Linked DNA regions of Homo sapiens: region 1 is linked to region 2. Evidence: fine-mapped expression QTL. Tissue or cell type: whole blood. Region 2 holds a variant in brackets; the other region holds the start of a gene. All regions are shown on one strand. Distances are between the middles of the regions.

The links. PIP is the estimated chance that this variant, and not a neighbour inherited with it, causes the effect.
Region 1: it holds the start of GTF2H1, and the variant in region 2 is fine-mapped to the expression of GTF2H1 in whole blood (INTERVAL, PIP 0.98).

The regions. Positions count from the first base shown.
Region 1 is chr11:18,317,654-18,325,653 of GRCh38, reverse strand. It overlaps GTF2H1 (general transcription factor IIH subunit 1), which reads right to left and starts at 3,087. Exons shown (of 15, transcript NM_005316.4): 1 at 2,914-3,087. HPS5 (HPS5 biogenesis of lysosomal organelles complex 2 subunit 2) reads left to right here and starts at 3,514. Exons shown (of 23, transcript NM_181507.2): 1 at 3,514-3,708; 2 at 7,747-7,903. The coding sequence starts at 7,796. RefSeq lists enhancers at 3,110-3,529, 3,540-3,839, 2,730-3,929, 3,067-4,016.
Region 2 is chr11:18,345,614-18,353,613 of GRCh38, reverse strand. It overlaps GTF2H1 (general transcription factor IIH subunit 1), which reads right to left. Exons shown (of 15, transcript NM_005316.4): 8 at 5,899-6,026; 9 at 5,695-5,782; 10 at 1,645-1,733; 11 at 1,168-1,285. It overlaps LOC105376577 (a long non-coding RNA gene), which reads right to left and starts at 4,497. Exons shown (of 2, transcript XR_007062611.1): 1 at 3,127-4,497; 2 at 1,735-3,019. The variant G/T (reference allele first, on the strand shown) is at 4,422.

The DNA of each region.
Region 1 (8,000 bases), 28 kb after region 2:
CCAGCTAAAGTCTCCTATTATTTTCTTCATGGCACTTACAACAACATAATTTTTAATGTGATTCTTTTAATGTACACGTCTCCTGACAGATTGCAAGCTTCATAAGGGAGGGCAGAGGCCATATATGTCGGGTTCTCTGTAATATAGCACCCAGTAATATAGTGTTTGGCCTATAAGAAGAGTCCAAGAAGTATCAATGACATCATTTAAGATCTTGCTGTTAAAAGAATACAATCTCTTGCTAAGACATAATAAGGAATCTTTGCATATACATCTTTGCCTAAACTCCGGGAACCACTATAGTTTTCAATTCACAGATCAATGTACCATTTCTCATACAGATTCTAATAACTGGATCTTGCTCTTAAAAGGCAACAGTGATAAGGAAGAATATGAACTGGTTGAATACAAATCTTTACATTACTGCACCTCTGCATTTCCATTACCTACATCCCCTTTTCCAATGTGCAAGAGATAAATGGAGGAGAGGAGATAGGGAGCAACAAGTGAAAGAGAAATCTTCTGAAAGAAGGATTACTAGAGAGCACTGTTATATCTGCCAGCATACAAAAATGGAGATTTGGAATGCTGCTTGCCATCAAGCAATCCAAAAGTGTTTGAACAATTCAGCATTAAAGGGAATAACTTTATAAGTATGTAAAGAGTGACCAAAATGTACTGTTTTAAGGATAATTTCACAGACAAGGAAGATATTAAGGAGAATAACTGATGTGGCAATTTTAGGACTGAGCACTTGTACATTTTACAGCAGTGCAGGGAAGAGGCAGGAGGAAAATGCGACAGAGATGCATGACAGAAGAAAATATGCTCATATCCATTAATAAATACTGCATGCTGACAAGAGTATATTACCAAAATTGAGAGAAGAGTAATCAGTTGGTAATCAAAGTGGTGAAAAGAGGAACTACTAGGTCAATGGCTGATACTGCCACACTGAAGGCAGGAAAGAGAAAGGAAGGGCACAAAGACATCTCTATCAGCAGTATGCATAAGGCAGAGATAAATGGTGGCCAAAATGCTAGGAAAGCTCAAGGTATGCCAGACAACATTCTGATGGTAGGGAATAAAATAGCACAGAGAAGCAGGTTATCAGAGGGCAGGACACATGGTACCAGCAGGGAGAAGTTACAAGCCTTGAGGGCAGTACACACAGGAAGCATTCACAACCCAGGACTGGTGCTGGTCGCTGGCTTCACTACTTTTAACTGATTCTTCTCCCACACTGCACCAAGTTTCCTAGTATTTTTCAAAAGCCCTCTCTGAATTTGCTTTGATTTTTTTTCACATTTGTACTGCAATGTGTATTTTATATCACCTAAGAGAGACTCAAACTTACCAATCTGTTGCACTGCTACAAGTCGGCTGAATGGCCTGGTCAACATGGTGAAACCCCGTCTCTACCAAAAATACAAAAATTAGCCAGGCATGGTGGCGTGCGCCTGTGATCCCAGCCGCTGGGGAGGCTGAGGCAGGAGAAGCCCTTGAACCCGGTAGATGGAGGTTGCAGTGAGCAGAGATCGCGCCATTGCACTCCAGCCTGGGCAACAAGAGCAAAACTCCGTCTCAAAAAAAAAAAAAAATGTCGGCTGAGTGAGGATAGCAGACCATCTCTTTTTTCTCCTTTCTGAATGAGGGACTTAAGCCTGCTAACAGGTACAAAGTTCTCTCCAGAGTTTAGTCCTTCTCTAAGTCCAAGGCCTGCTACTAGAGGTTACCTTCCCTGCGGTTGTGACCTCTCCATCTCAACTGCTCTGGTTTTGTCTTTTAAAAAATCTTAAGGTTGGCAACTTTGGCTTAATTACCTAAGTCCAGTTCAGTGGTTTTCAAACTGTGTTCCAAGGAGTGGCCTCTAGGATAGAAGTTAAGTGGGGTGGTGGGGCCTGGCCCTTTTAAATTTAGTTCCACCAGAGCATGCTGCTTTATATATTGGGTTCCAGATAAAAATTCATGGGGAGAAATTGTTCCACTCCTTTAAAATGTTTGAAAATCACAAGTCTGGATATTGGTTTGTATGGAGTCAATACTCACTGCAAAGCACATTTCATTCAAACCACTCAGTTTTTTTTTTGTTTTTGTTTTTAAGACTGGGTCTTCAAATGGACAAAGGGTGTATTTTTCATATCTTCTTTCCCCATCCCCATTTTACTGATGCTAAAATTGGAGTTTAGGAGTCATTTGGGGCCAGGCACTGTAGCATAATTCTGGCGCTTTGGGAGGTCTAGGCAGGAGAATCGCTTGAGCCCAGGAATTCGAGGTTACAGTGAGCTATTATCACGCCACTGCATTCCAGCCAGGACGACAGAACAAGACTCTGTCTCTTAAAAAAAAATAAGAAAAGTCACCTCCTTATTTAATTTGGCCTTTGAGAACACTGGGGGATTTACAAAATAATTACATATATCCAGGTACTCATGGTCTATTTTTCATCATTACACGACAATCAAATGACCAAAACTAGGAGTGTGTGGACTGGCACGTGTTAAGGTTTTTAAGAGAGGTAAGATTGACAGGTGGAAGCAAAAGGTGTGCAGACAACAAGGTGACAGCTTTTCTCTTACAGAATCCCAGACTCAACAGCACATTTCCTGACGGGAAGGGCTTCTCTGTCTGGGAGAGGCCTCCACTTCATTCTCATAAGCCAAATCTGATCCTGGCTTTGGGTAAACCTGCTCTCAATTTAAGAGCAGGTTTCCTTTAGACAAGTAGATTAGGGGTCGCCTCTTCCTCGCCTCGGGATAAGGGCAAACAAGACGCCAGGCTTGGGCGTTGGGAGGACGGCGACAGCGACGCTGGGAACAGGGGTAGAATCCACGCCGTCCAGCGGCCCCCAGGCCTGTCAGCTCCTCACCCGCCCACCCACCCGCCCGCCTGCATTCTTCGGTCTAAACTTACCAGGTGGAAGCTACAACTCTAGACAGGAAGTAACTAACTGGGTTGGATCCGGTCGAGTTCCGCTGCGCTTCTTAGAGCCGCTGCTGGGAAGAGGCCGAAACCCAGTGGCCGCAGCAGTAGCCACCGCCTCTGTTACTAGGGGGTCTCGCCTCCATCGCTGGCTGCGAGGAGTCTGAGGGCACGTGACCGGAAGTAGCAAGGCGGGCCCTGGGCACGTGACTCAAGAGCGCGGCCGCCATGACACCTTCCGCTAGTTCCCTCCCTCCCCCACGGGTTCCCGCCTGTTTCGTTTCCTCTCTCCGGTCTCGAGCGGCGAAGGGTCCTGGGATCCTGGCTGGCCCAACCATTTGGCCTAGAGCTCCTCCGGTTCCAGTCGGCGCCGTGTCTCCAGCCCGCAACGGCCCTGCGGTCGCAGGCCGTAGAGAGCGTAATCGCGACCGCGGCCTGAGGGGGAGGGACCACGCGGAAGGAGGGGCGTGACTCGTCACGTGATGAGGAAGTGCCGTTAGTAGCGTTGTTTCCAGTCTGCGGCTCTCCTGGATGACGTCAGCAAGGAAGGGGAGGAACGCGAGGGGAGACTGAAGTTCACGTTCCGCTCTTAGTGCGCGGTGAGTTCCCCGGCGCTAAGCCGGGAGACAAGATCCGATCTACTGAGAGCTGCGAGGTACTGCCCTGGATGTGGTGGAGCTGGGCTGGGACCTCCGGGCTGCTGGTCTGTGAGCCTGGCTTTGAAAATTGGTTACTGGGTCTCCTCTCAAGAAATCTCAAGATATTAAAGTTACTGCTGTTAAAAAGGTAGTAGTTCCACTAGGCAAGGAGCTTTTTGTGGGTAGGGATTGTGTTTTGTTCATCCCTGTGTCTCTAGCGGTGTGTTCAGGTCCTGGAACATAGTAGGCACTCAGAATGTTGAATGAATGAATGTATAAATGAGTCAGTCGCCATTTGTCTGAGGCAGAGAGTTGTTTTCTGATCATTTCTTCTTGGATAGAAAGATCCCATTGTGAAAATGAGGCAGTCTGCAACTTCCCCTTCTCATTTCTTCAATTTTTGCTATCTTTCTTACTTCTTTCTCCTCTTCCTCCACGCACCTACTGGGGCAAAAGAGAAACATGTTTGCATTTGATGTGTGAGCAACAAACACTGAACTATTTTACGATAATGGAAAGATGAGATTTGGATTCAGGAGACGCGTATTCTAATCTCAGCTCTACCATTTATGAACTCTGTGATCCTTGGGCAAGCCAGTCTCCCAAAAGTTGTTTCATTTACTTTGGTTAAGCATTTGTCGCCAACTTCTATGTTCTTAGTTTTTGGTAGAGTGCCTTCACAGAAGTAACATTTAAACTCAGCTTTGCAGAAAGGTAGGGTTTTGGTAAATGGGGGAAGATTCCATAAACATCATATATTAAACCATGGAGGCACAGCAAGTTTATGGAATGAAAAAGAAAAAAAGAGTCGAGTCCAATGTAGTTGGAGAATAGAGAGGTTAAGATGGGAAATAAGGCTGGAAAAAGAAGCAGGGAGGAGATAACAGATTTTCAAGAAATAGAGCTGTTGAAGGCTTGTACAATATTATGTATATATTTTTTAAATTTTATTGTGGAAAATTTCAAACGCAGACAAAAGTAGGATAATAAATTGAACCCTCATGTACACTTAACGCAACTTGAACAATTATCAGCATTCTGCTGTTCCTCTTTATACTGTTTGTACATTTCTAGGTACTTTTTATATCCATTGTTGCATTTGATTAATAGCAGCTTTCAATTTGAGCTCAGTTCTACTGTATGTAGCTACTGGCTAAGAAGATTTTATTTATGTAAACAATTTCTTTGGGTTTTAGTTGACCACTTGCTCTGTTGAATCAATGTGTAACATGGCCACTTAAACACAACTAATACTGTTTTTAGGTTGTAATATAGAAACTTAGTGTCTAGATCCAGGAAGTTAGTGTTTCTACTCTATTCTGGGCTCATCTAACTACTTAAGGAGTATTATGCTCAGTTCTAGGCACCTCATTTTTAGGCAAACTACAGTGCCTCTGTAGAAGGTTGACTGGAACAGAGGGTTGGAAAATGTCATGTCAGGAGTGATGAAGAAACTGGGAATGTTAAATTTTTAGAAGACCTGATAATGCTTTTCAAATACAGAAGGATTGTTTTGGAAAGAGACAGCTTGTTCCCTTCAGCTGTAGAAGCTACATACAATTAGGAATAATGGTAGAGCTCTAAGTGATCAGGCTTCAGCATAGTATTAAAAAGAACCTTATAATAGTGAGCCCTTTGGAGGACTGGAATTGGCAGCTTCATGAGAGTGAGTGCTTTCTTTCCATGGCTGAAAATGTTCAGGGATCTAGGGCAAAACTAATTTCTGAATTAGGTGGACATGTTCACTGAATTACCTATGAATCTTTTTCCATCTTGAGAATTCTAGGAAGTAGGGCTCATGTGCGATCTTGAAAGCTGGGTATGTTTGGATAAGAAAATCTGGAAGGGAAGCAGTCATTTCAGGGAGAGTAAACATAAAGTATAAAGTTGAAGTTGGTTTAACACTGTCATTCAGCAGCTTCTCTGAGAATTGGCATTGCTTATGCTGTTTTTATTTTCCATTCTCATTTCTGTTAAATTCTTTTTTTCTTTTCAGTAGAACTTACTAGGTGTGTCCCCCTGCACACCCCCGCATTATATTATAACTTCCAGGACATTCTCTTTTTACCGAGATTAAGGCAAAATGACCTACTCAGAGTTTCTTTGTTTCAAGATCACAAGTAGAAGAGACACTATGATATTATCATTCCTTTCCATCTCTTGGATCCTGTACCATGGTTTTATCTTTTTCTTGAATCTTCAGTCCCTTTCGTTCTAGACTCTACTTTTAGCTACTACCTACAAATCTGTTGAAGAGTCTCCCCAATAATAACGTCAAGAGAGGTTTTCTCCTTTTCCACCAGACTTCTTGAGTAATTGAAATGTTTTATCCTCATTTTCATATCACCCACCCGTTTTCTCAAGTCTTTGTTTTCTAGCATCTAACCACCCACAGCACTTTACAGAAATTGTGTGACCTCCCAACACACAATTCTTCAATTCCTTTCTGTTGCCTGCCAAGTTAAGTTCAGGTTCTTTGGTTTGAAATTCAAAGTGTTTTGTAACTTGGGCCCAAATTAAGATTCCAGCTTTATCTTTCATTATTCCGTTGCTTGTATCCTGTTTCAACCAAAGACTAAATTTGTATTCTTCTAGTATATTCTGCATTTTTTTCTTCTCTATATATTTGCTTATTGCTACCCTACCTGCTACCCTTTCCCTTTTCCTTGAGATAAAAGCCTAGTCAGCATCAGTACTACTTTCCTTAGAGCGTTTTCTTCAGTTCCCTTTAATTCAATGTGATCCCTCTGTCCTGTAAAGTTCTAACAAAGCAGTTTGCTTATGTTTCCCTTATAAGATGTGTGTGTGTGTGTGTGTGTGTGTGTGTGTGTGTGTGTGGTATTTGTCTTTTCCTCCGTATTATAAACTGACTGACTTCTGGAATTATTTTACTTGTCTTATTTTTACCACTGTGCCTGGTACTTTACTAGGTACTCAATGAAATGAATGAGTGAAAACAATGAGGGAAGATTTTCTTAGGTCAATAATTCTCAAATATTTTGAGTACAGGCATGTGAAAGTTTCTTTCTGGGTTTTTTCTTTTTTTTTTTCCTGAACATTCTCCTTGCAGAGGTCAAGGTGTATTAGGAACAGTGTTACTAGCAGAAAATAAGATTGTGTTATGTGTGTGCAATAAAAAATATAGTCTTCGTTTTGCCACTAGAAAGTATGCTCTATGAGGGTTAGAACTTTATCATCTCCAGGACCTAGAATAATGTCTGGCACGTAGGTGGGTGCTCAGTACAAATTTGTTGAATAAATGAGTGATGGAATATATATGTTTCTGGAAAAAAAGTCAAAAACGTAAAGCATGAACAAACAACAAGAATGTATAAACAGTTCATGACTTTTTCTGTTGTATTCATTGGCTTTCTAAATTTGGCAGGTAACAAGTGATTGAGAAAAGTTATAATTAATGAGTAGAATTTTCTTTTCTTTTTTTCTGGAGATTGGTGCAAGTTGACAAAAAAGTGCATTTGAGAGTAGGTGAACACATAAAAACTTTCGTGTTACTTTACAAAGTCCTCACTGGTTATTTGGCATTTGTTACCTTGTATTCTTATCCGTATTCTGTCCTATCTAGTCTCTTTTGTTGAAGCGCTTATTTTTCTTTGTGCTCTAATTCCCTGTACCTTCTCACTTAGTAGATCTGTTCATTCATTCACCATACTTACTAAGCCCCTGCTCGGTTGAAGAGAGAAGTCTAGTGGCCTATTCCTATAAACCACTGTTAAATTGTTAGCTGATAACTGTAGGGTTTGCTGATAACAGTTAATAAGTTGAGGCCTTTACAGAAGATTGCGTTTTAATGAGAGACTCCTAAAGACAGAAGATTTAGTATTCATAGAAATGCAGCAGCAAGGTTGCTGTTTTAACTCAGGGTGATATGCCAATTTTCCTAAATCCTACTCTACCTATTCTGTTTACTCACACTGTTAGATAATACAGGGGGATAGGCTTATGGAGGGCCCTGAGAATCCGTACCTGCTACTCTGGGAGTTTTAGAGTCAGGGAATGACACAATGTAAACACACTGTGGCATACGATGTTACCTTATGTGTTTTCTTTCTAAGTCCCTGTATAGTGGGGACTTTCTCATGTTTCTCTATGTTCCCCACATATTTGTTAAATGCATGTTAAATGAATGGTGGGCTTCTTAAATTATATTTTTGTGGATTTTATTCAGGTGAGGAATACTGTATCTATCATTCAACAAGTTTCAGCTTTCTGGCTAAATGGCTTTTGTGCCAGTGATACCAGAGTCCTACAGCCATGTTCTTGCAGAGTTTGAATCTCTGGATCCATTACTCTCAGCCCTGCGGCTGGACTCCAGTCGTCTAAAGGTGAATTTCTTGATCCTTGTATCAGTTTCATTTTCACGTGCTCTCTGTTACTGTGCCCCTACCCTCCAGTTCCTTAACGTTTTGTGGAATCTTGGGT
Region 2 (8,000 bases):
TAAGGATTACTTTCCAGAGGCAATGAAACTGGAGCTGAGTCTTGAGTAATTATTAGTTCCTTGGGGGAGAAACAGGGCTAAGGGAATTCTAAAGAGAAAGAGCATAAGCCGAAGCACAGGAAGCATGAAGGAGATAATGTGATCAAAAGATTCTGGACAGCTTAGTGTGTTAGGCTGGAACCCTTGGCCATGTGTGGAAGGGAGTAGCGGAGACTATCGCTGAAGATGAGACTCGAGTAGTGGGCTGGGGCCAGACTATAAAGAGTTTTGCAGGCCAGACAAAGGCACTCAGACTACTGCAGTGAAGGGAGGCAGTGAAGGTTTTCAAGCCGCAGTGATAAAATACATGTTTTTATTTTTAAATATTTAAATATTTATCTATCTATTTGAGATGGAGCTTCGCTCTTGTCGCCCAGGCTGGAGTGCAATGGCGCGGTGTCAGCTCACTGTAACCTCTGCCTTCCAGGTTCAAGTGATTCTCCTGCCTCAGCGTCTTGAGTAGCTGGGATTACAGGTGTGTGCCACCACGCCCAGTTAATTTTTAAATTTTTAGTACAGACGGGTTTCACCATGTTGGTCAGGCTGGTCTCGAACTTCTGACCTCACGTGATCCACCCACCTCGGCCTCCCAAAGTATTGGGATTACAGGCGTGAGCCACTGTGCCCGGCCAAAATAAGTGATTTTAGAAAGACAACTTGCAGTAGCATTATGGAAAATCAATCAGGTTTGCCTAAATAAGGGTGATAGAATCAAGAAGTATTATTGAAGGCAGAACTGACAAATTGCTGATCAACTGAAGTACGAAGAGAAACAAAGAACAATGATGAGCTGTTTTACATATTTTAAGCCTGAGTCATGCAGAATATTCAGAGAATAATGTCCAGACAGAATTTGGAAACCTGGGAGATTTTCCCAATAAAAGTATATGGAAGTAAAAATCACAAAATTCATCAACTTATTTTTTTTCATTATCATCTTATCTTCAGATGCCTCTTGAATATGCCAAACACCTTTTCTTGCTACCTCTTGATTTTTTCAATTTATTTAGCAGAACTATGTCTTTAAGCCCAATTAAAATATTAGTTGTATGGTTCAATCTGCTTGTGCTCATAAACTGAGGAAGGAACTATGGGAATTCTGGCCTTCAAACAGTAGAAGTCACCTACCTGAGTTAACTTGGGTGTATAAGCTTCCATTTCTTGTCTAATACTTTGAAAAGAATTAATAATGTCCTGACTTGTTGCATACTGTAGTGACTGGATTGGAGTTGGACCATGATAATACCTGCAGGTTAGCACAGAAGAAATTACTAATCACACACAGTAAAGATGCTCAACATTTGTCTTTGCAACATTTTAGCAGTCAGTACTAAGTTCCCCTCAAGGCAAGAAACGATAAGTAAAGAGATTTCAATAAAATAATTTAATTCCCATAAGGGCAATAAGAAAGCAACAGCAGAAAGATCCACATTTATTGTCATGGGTTTGATCATTTTTGCTTCCTGAGAAGCCTAAATTTTAAACAGAAAAGGATATTGTACTTTGATGGTGACGAACTGATTAAAACATGAGTGCTATACTTGTAGGATATATTTTGGACTGAATTGTTACATAGCTATTCTGCTTAATATTGACCAAACTTACCTATCTGACTTCTTGAGGTTTAGTGCAATCGTTTTTACAGAATTATTTTTCCCCAAGTCTTCATATTCAATGGACTCTTGTAATTTCGCCTATAATTATTAACACAGTACTTTTTATTTTGTCACAACTTTCTCTTACACAATAAACATGACTGAAAAAACAAAACTGTACAGAGGGTAAAAAATGAAGTCTTCCCACCATGAGCTTCTCTTCCTAGAGATGACTGTCCTACAAATGGCTGAACCAATTTTCTCAACAACTACTTAAGAATACTAGTTTTCTTACACTCTGACCACATGAAGTATTATTGAACTTTTTACTTTTGCCAATCTGGTAGGTGAAAGTTTACATTTTATTATTTTTTCCCCAAATGAATGATCTGTTATGCTCTCCACTATTTTTATATTGGGTACTTTTTAAAAAATAAGACTTTTAAATATTAAGGAAACAGTCTTTTACATGTTGTAAATACTTTATCTTCCAGTTTGGTGTTTTTTTGTTTTGTTTTGTTTTAATTATAAAAAAATCCTCTCCTCGGCAGGTGCCTGTAATCCCAGCTACTTGGGAGGCTGAGGCAGGAGAATCGCTTGAACCCGGGAGGCAGAGGTTGCAGTGAGCTGAGATCACGCCACTGCGTTCCAGCCTGGGCGACAAGTGAGACTTCATCAAAAAAAAAAAAAAAAATTCCGCCTCTTTGCCCGCTTTTTGCTTATACATCTGTGGCTTAAAAAATTTTTTTTTTCTAGGCGCATATCACCACCTCCCCAGCCAAACTCAGTCTCCTAAATTGCGGAGATTACAGACACATGCTACCATGCTCAGCTTCCGGCTTAATTTTTGCTTAATCTTAGATCCACTCAGAATTTATTTTGGATTAGGAGTAAAATAGGGAATCTAAGTTTCTTTTAACAAAATTATCAATCAGTGCTTCTAACACCATTTGTAAAATAATTTACCTTTTCCCACTGATTTTTAAAATGTCATGTGTATCATACATATGCTTAATTCCTCCACGTATTTGGGTTTACTTCTGGACTCTTTTAGTAATTTTATTCATTAATTTTATTAATCTGTTACCCCCTGTGCTATTAACAACCTGCTTAAATTTTTACAGCCTTGTAATAATACAAACATATTACTTATGAAAGATACATGATCTATGTAAACATTTGTGCAAATCAGCCTTGAAATATTTCATCCTCTACAAAGCTATGAAATTCATCTGGTCAACTCTTATTGACTACCAAGACTAGAATCAGAACATTCAGGTTATTAACTATACCTCAAAAAACGTCAATCTGAAAACTTAACGTTTTAAATTGCTCCAGCTTTAAGATTCTAAATAGTCCCTTTATGGTACAGGAACAAATCTGACCTCACATGAAGTCACAAATCTGACCTCAATCTGAAAACTTAACGTTTTAAATTGCTCCAGCTTTAAGATTCTAAATAGTCCCTTTATGGTACAGGAACAAATCTGACCTCAGAGAAACACATCCTTACCTAGACTCAGCCTGACTTTTTTTTTTTTAACTACTTTCTCAACTCTATACCTTTCAGCCAACTTCAAGGATTACTGATGTCTTCATGATTTTTGACATATGTCAAGCTTATCTCTACCCCTGCTGTTGCCTTACCTATGACATGTCCCTACCCAAGCTCCCATAACAATCCAAATCCTAAACTTATGCCAAGGCCTTGTTAGGTCACCTGACTTTCACACTTAAATGAAAGCTCCATCAAGGTAGGGACTCTGTCTGCTATTAATTCTGAATCTCTCATTCTACAAGTGAGAGAATCTATAAATTGTAACCCTTTATAGAATAAACAGCAGTCAACCACTGACTTGGAAGAATAGTTAGAGCCAGCATTTACCACTGAATACTGATAGCCCCTGACTTACAATGGTTTGACTTGGAATTTTTCAACTTTATGATGGTGTCAAAGTGATTCACATTCAGTAGAGAAACCATATTTTGAGTACCCATACATTGTTTTTCACTTTCAGTATTCAATGAGTTACATGAGATATTCAACATTTTATTAGAAAATACACTTTATAGTAGGTAATGCTGCCCAACTACAGGCTAATCTAAGTGTTCGGAACACATTTAAAGTAGGATAGGCTAAACTATGGTGTTCCATACATTAGGTGTATTCAATGCATTTTTGATTTACAGTATTTGCAACTTATGAGTTTATTGGGATGTAGCCCCATTTAAGTCGAGAAGCATCTGTATTGTAAAAATTCACACAAGTAAATAAATTTCTTTTTTATTTTTTCTTTGAGATGGAGTCTTGCTCTGTCATCCAGGCTGGAGTGCAGCGACGCGATCCCAGCTCACTGCGAACTCCGCCTGCCAGGTTCAAGTGATTTTGCTGCCTCAGCCTCCCAGGTAGCTGGAATTACAGGCGCACGTCACCATGCCTGGCTAATTTCTGTATTTTTAATAGAGACAGGGTTTCACCATGCTGGCCAGGCTGATCTAGAAATTCTGACCTCAAGTGATCCACCCACCTTGGACTCCCAAAGTGCTGGGACTACAGGTGTGAGCCACGGCTCCTGGCCAAGAAATTTCTGATAACTTGTTCACCACCAAGAATCAAGGGTACTCAGCCCAACAGTATACAAAGAAAGTATCACTTAATAGATTTCTTCTCTAACTTCTCTATAACTTATTATTAGCTTTGCTTTAGTTCAAAAAAGAAATACCTCACTGGCTTTATTAATTTTATAGGTAATACATGCCTGTAAAAACATTAAGTTACTGAAATAG[G/T]CTGGCACAGTGGCTCATGCCTGTAACCCCAGCACTTTGGGAGGCTGAGATGGGCGGATCACATGAGGCCAGGAGTTCAACACCAGCCTGGCCAATATGGCAAAACTCCGTCTCTACTAAAAATACAAAAATTAGCTAGGTATGGTGGTGCACGCCTGTAATCCCAGCTACTCCGGAGGCTGAGGCAGAAGAATTGCTTGAATCCAGGAGGCAGACGTTGCAGTGAGCCGAGATTGCAGTGAGCTGAGATTGCACCACTGCACTCCAGCCTGGGTGACAGAGCAAGACTCTGTCTCAAAAAAACAAACAATAACAACAACAAAAACATTAAATTACTGAAATAAATGAAAGAAATTAAGACTTACCCATACTCTCTTTATTGAAAGATAACCGTTTAGCATATTCATTTGAAGGCCCTTTTAAAGCTCACAAACTATTTTTTTTGTGTGTAAAACTGTACTGTACAATCTGTTCAGTGAACTCTTTGATGCAATATTATCATTAATGCTTTCAAAATAATGAACAGTTGCATCAATCTCTATTGTATTAATGCAACACAGATAACAGAATCCTTGCTACTGTCTTTATTATGATACTGTAATGAATATTTCTATCTAAATCTTAGTATACATCTTTCTTAAGAAATAAATGTCCACAAGTAGAACTAAGGGTGTAAAGCTTTAAACATTTAATACACATTGCCTGACTGCTCTCTAAGAAAGCTTTATCATAATTAGGAAGGGAGGTACAAAATAGCGTGGCAAAGTTGCAGGAGAAGAATAAATACACAAGCAGCTAATTCTGTCCATCCTTCTCCACACCCTCAAATGATTTCTTCAATATTTAATGAGAAGACACTTTCAGCTCTGAAATGCTAGGTTTAACATGAGGGCCAATTCACTTTCTTTGAAAAATCATATACATGAAACTTCGGTTTTTCTGTCATATTGCCTCTGTTGAATGAAGATTTTATTCCCAGAGAACAAAATCACATATAAGAACAATCTGTATGTATGTGTACATGTGAGGAAAACAAACAAACAAACAAACAAAAAACAATAAAAATGGCTAACAGGCTAGAGTCAATGGAAAGTTGGCTGGCAAGCCAAAGCTGGGGAAATACTCTTTGTAATGCTATACACTTTAAGCCAAATGCTTAACATCTTAGTTAGAAGAACTGAGTCACAGGAAATAAGCGTATACAGTACTTGCAGTCACATAAAGTATTTGGAGAAACTTGAGCCCCAAATGGTTCATATTTTTTTGCCCATACCCTTTTGACTGCTGGCTGAAAGCAGTCTGCATCTCCGGAATTTCCATCCATGTTGCTGGGCTCACTAGTTTGTTCATTTTGTGCTTCTCTTAAAATAAAGGGGAAAAAAAAGTTAACGTTAAAAACCACAAGCAAAACAACACCACAACTCCATCTGGATATCCTGAAAAGCCCAGTTACTGCACCTCTGCATTTATACTTAACTGTTTTCTGAGTCCAGCTGCCAGGACCATGGCACTGTGATGGTTAAATCTCTTGATGATGGCAGCATTACTATTCTCTTTTATGGATTTAGAATTGGAAGCAGATGGCACAGAGGAAATGCCATAGCCCTGTGAGAAATAATAGATTAAAAATTTTTTAAAAAGGTTCTGCTTTTCTTATTATAAGACACGCTTAGCTGAAAAAATTTGCTGGATGATGGGACTTTTATTACTTCTCACGAACATTAAATATTTATGAACAAACATTTAAAAACAAGTGACATTATGCACATAAAAGATTAACAAATAGCACTAACTCGTTTTAGCATTACAAAATACATCTTAAACTGAATTTCTCTCTGTTTTTGAGATGGAGTCCCGCTCTGTTGCTCAGGCTGGAGTGCAACCTTCGCCTCCTGCATTCAAGTGATTCTCTTGCCTCAGCCTCCTGAGAAGCTGGGATTACAGGCGCCTGCCACCACGCCCGGCTAATATTTTGTATTTTTAGTAGAGATGGGGTTTCACCATGCTGGTCAGACTGGTCTTGAACTCCTGACCTCAAGTGATCCGCCCACCTTGGCCTCCCAAAGTGCTGGGATTACAGGTGTGAGCCACCGTGCGTGGTCTGCATTTCTCTTTTAAAGAACAATTTGGATCTAGTTATCAAAACGTTAAATAAAAGCAATAGAGTCAGGATACCTGTAATCCCAGCACTCTGGGAGGCCAAGGTGGGCGAGTCACCTGAGGTCAGGAGTTCAAAACTAGCCCGGCCAACATGGTGAAACCTCATCTCTATCAAAAATACAAAAATTAGCCAGGTATGGTGGCACACACCTGTAATCCCAGCTGTTGGGGAGGCTGAGTGAGGCAGGAGAATCACTTGAACCCAGGAGGCAGAGGTGGCAGTGAGCTGAGATTGCACCACTGCACTCCAGCCTGGGTGACAGAGTGAGACTGTCTCAAAAAAAAAAAAAAAAAAAAAAGTAAATAAAAAGAATAGAATATAGTGAGAAAAACACTGACTATGGATTCAGAAAGATAAAGAGTCAAATTCTTTTTCTAACGTTAATCTAGGCAAGATAAACTTTTCCAAGCTCTATAAAGTAGGATAAAAGAGAATAAAATGAGATTATATTTTAAAACATGTATTGAGTGCACGCTACTTGCTAGACCATGTAGATACAAAATTGATTAAGACCCCATGCCATAGGAGCTTAAATACTAGTTAGTGGGAAGCTGGGCTGGAGAGAATTACTAATCAATCCTACTGGAGAAGAGGGTTCGAAAAAGGTTCACAGAGAACCATAAGATAAACTGGTGCTTGCCAAGTAGATCGGAGACAATAACATTTCAGGGAGAGGAAACTGCTTAAACAAAGGCAAAGAGGCACTGTGGTCCTGATTATTTGGGAGGTTGAGGCAGAAGAACTGTTGAGCCGAAGAGTTCAAGTCCAGCCTGGCAACACAGTGAGACCTTGTCTCTATTTAAAAATAAAACAAAACACAAGCAAAGCAGCAATGTAGTACATATTGTGTCATGAGACTGTATATGGTTCAATACACTAATAACGGTGGTCCAGGAATTGGTGAGGCTAAAAAGGTGAAAGAAAGATCATGAGACTCATATGGGCCAGGCGTGGTGGCTTACGCCTGTAATCCCAACACTTTGGGAGGCTGAGGCGGGTGGATCATGAGGTCAGGAGATCGAGGCCATCCTGGCTAACACGGTGAAATCCTTTCCGTACTAAAAATACAAAAAATTAGCCGGGCGAGGTGGCGGACGCCTGTAGTCCCAGCTACTCAGGAGGCTGAGGCAGGAGAATGGCATGAACCCCAGGGGGCAGAGCCTGCAGTGAGCCGAGATGGTGCTACTGCACTCTAGCCTGGGTGACAGCAAGACTCCGTCTCAAAAAAAAAAAAACTCATATGTGCTGGGTGTGGTGGCTCACGCCTGTAATCCCACCACTTTGGGAGGCTGAGGTGGGTGGGTCACCTGAGGTTGGGAATTCAAGACCAGTCTGGTCGTGGTGAAACCCTGTACTAAAAATACAAAAATTAGCTGGGCGTGGTGTGTGCCTATGATCCCACCTACTCAGGAAGCTGA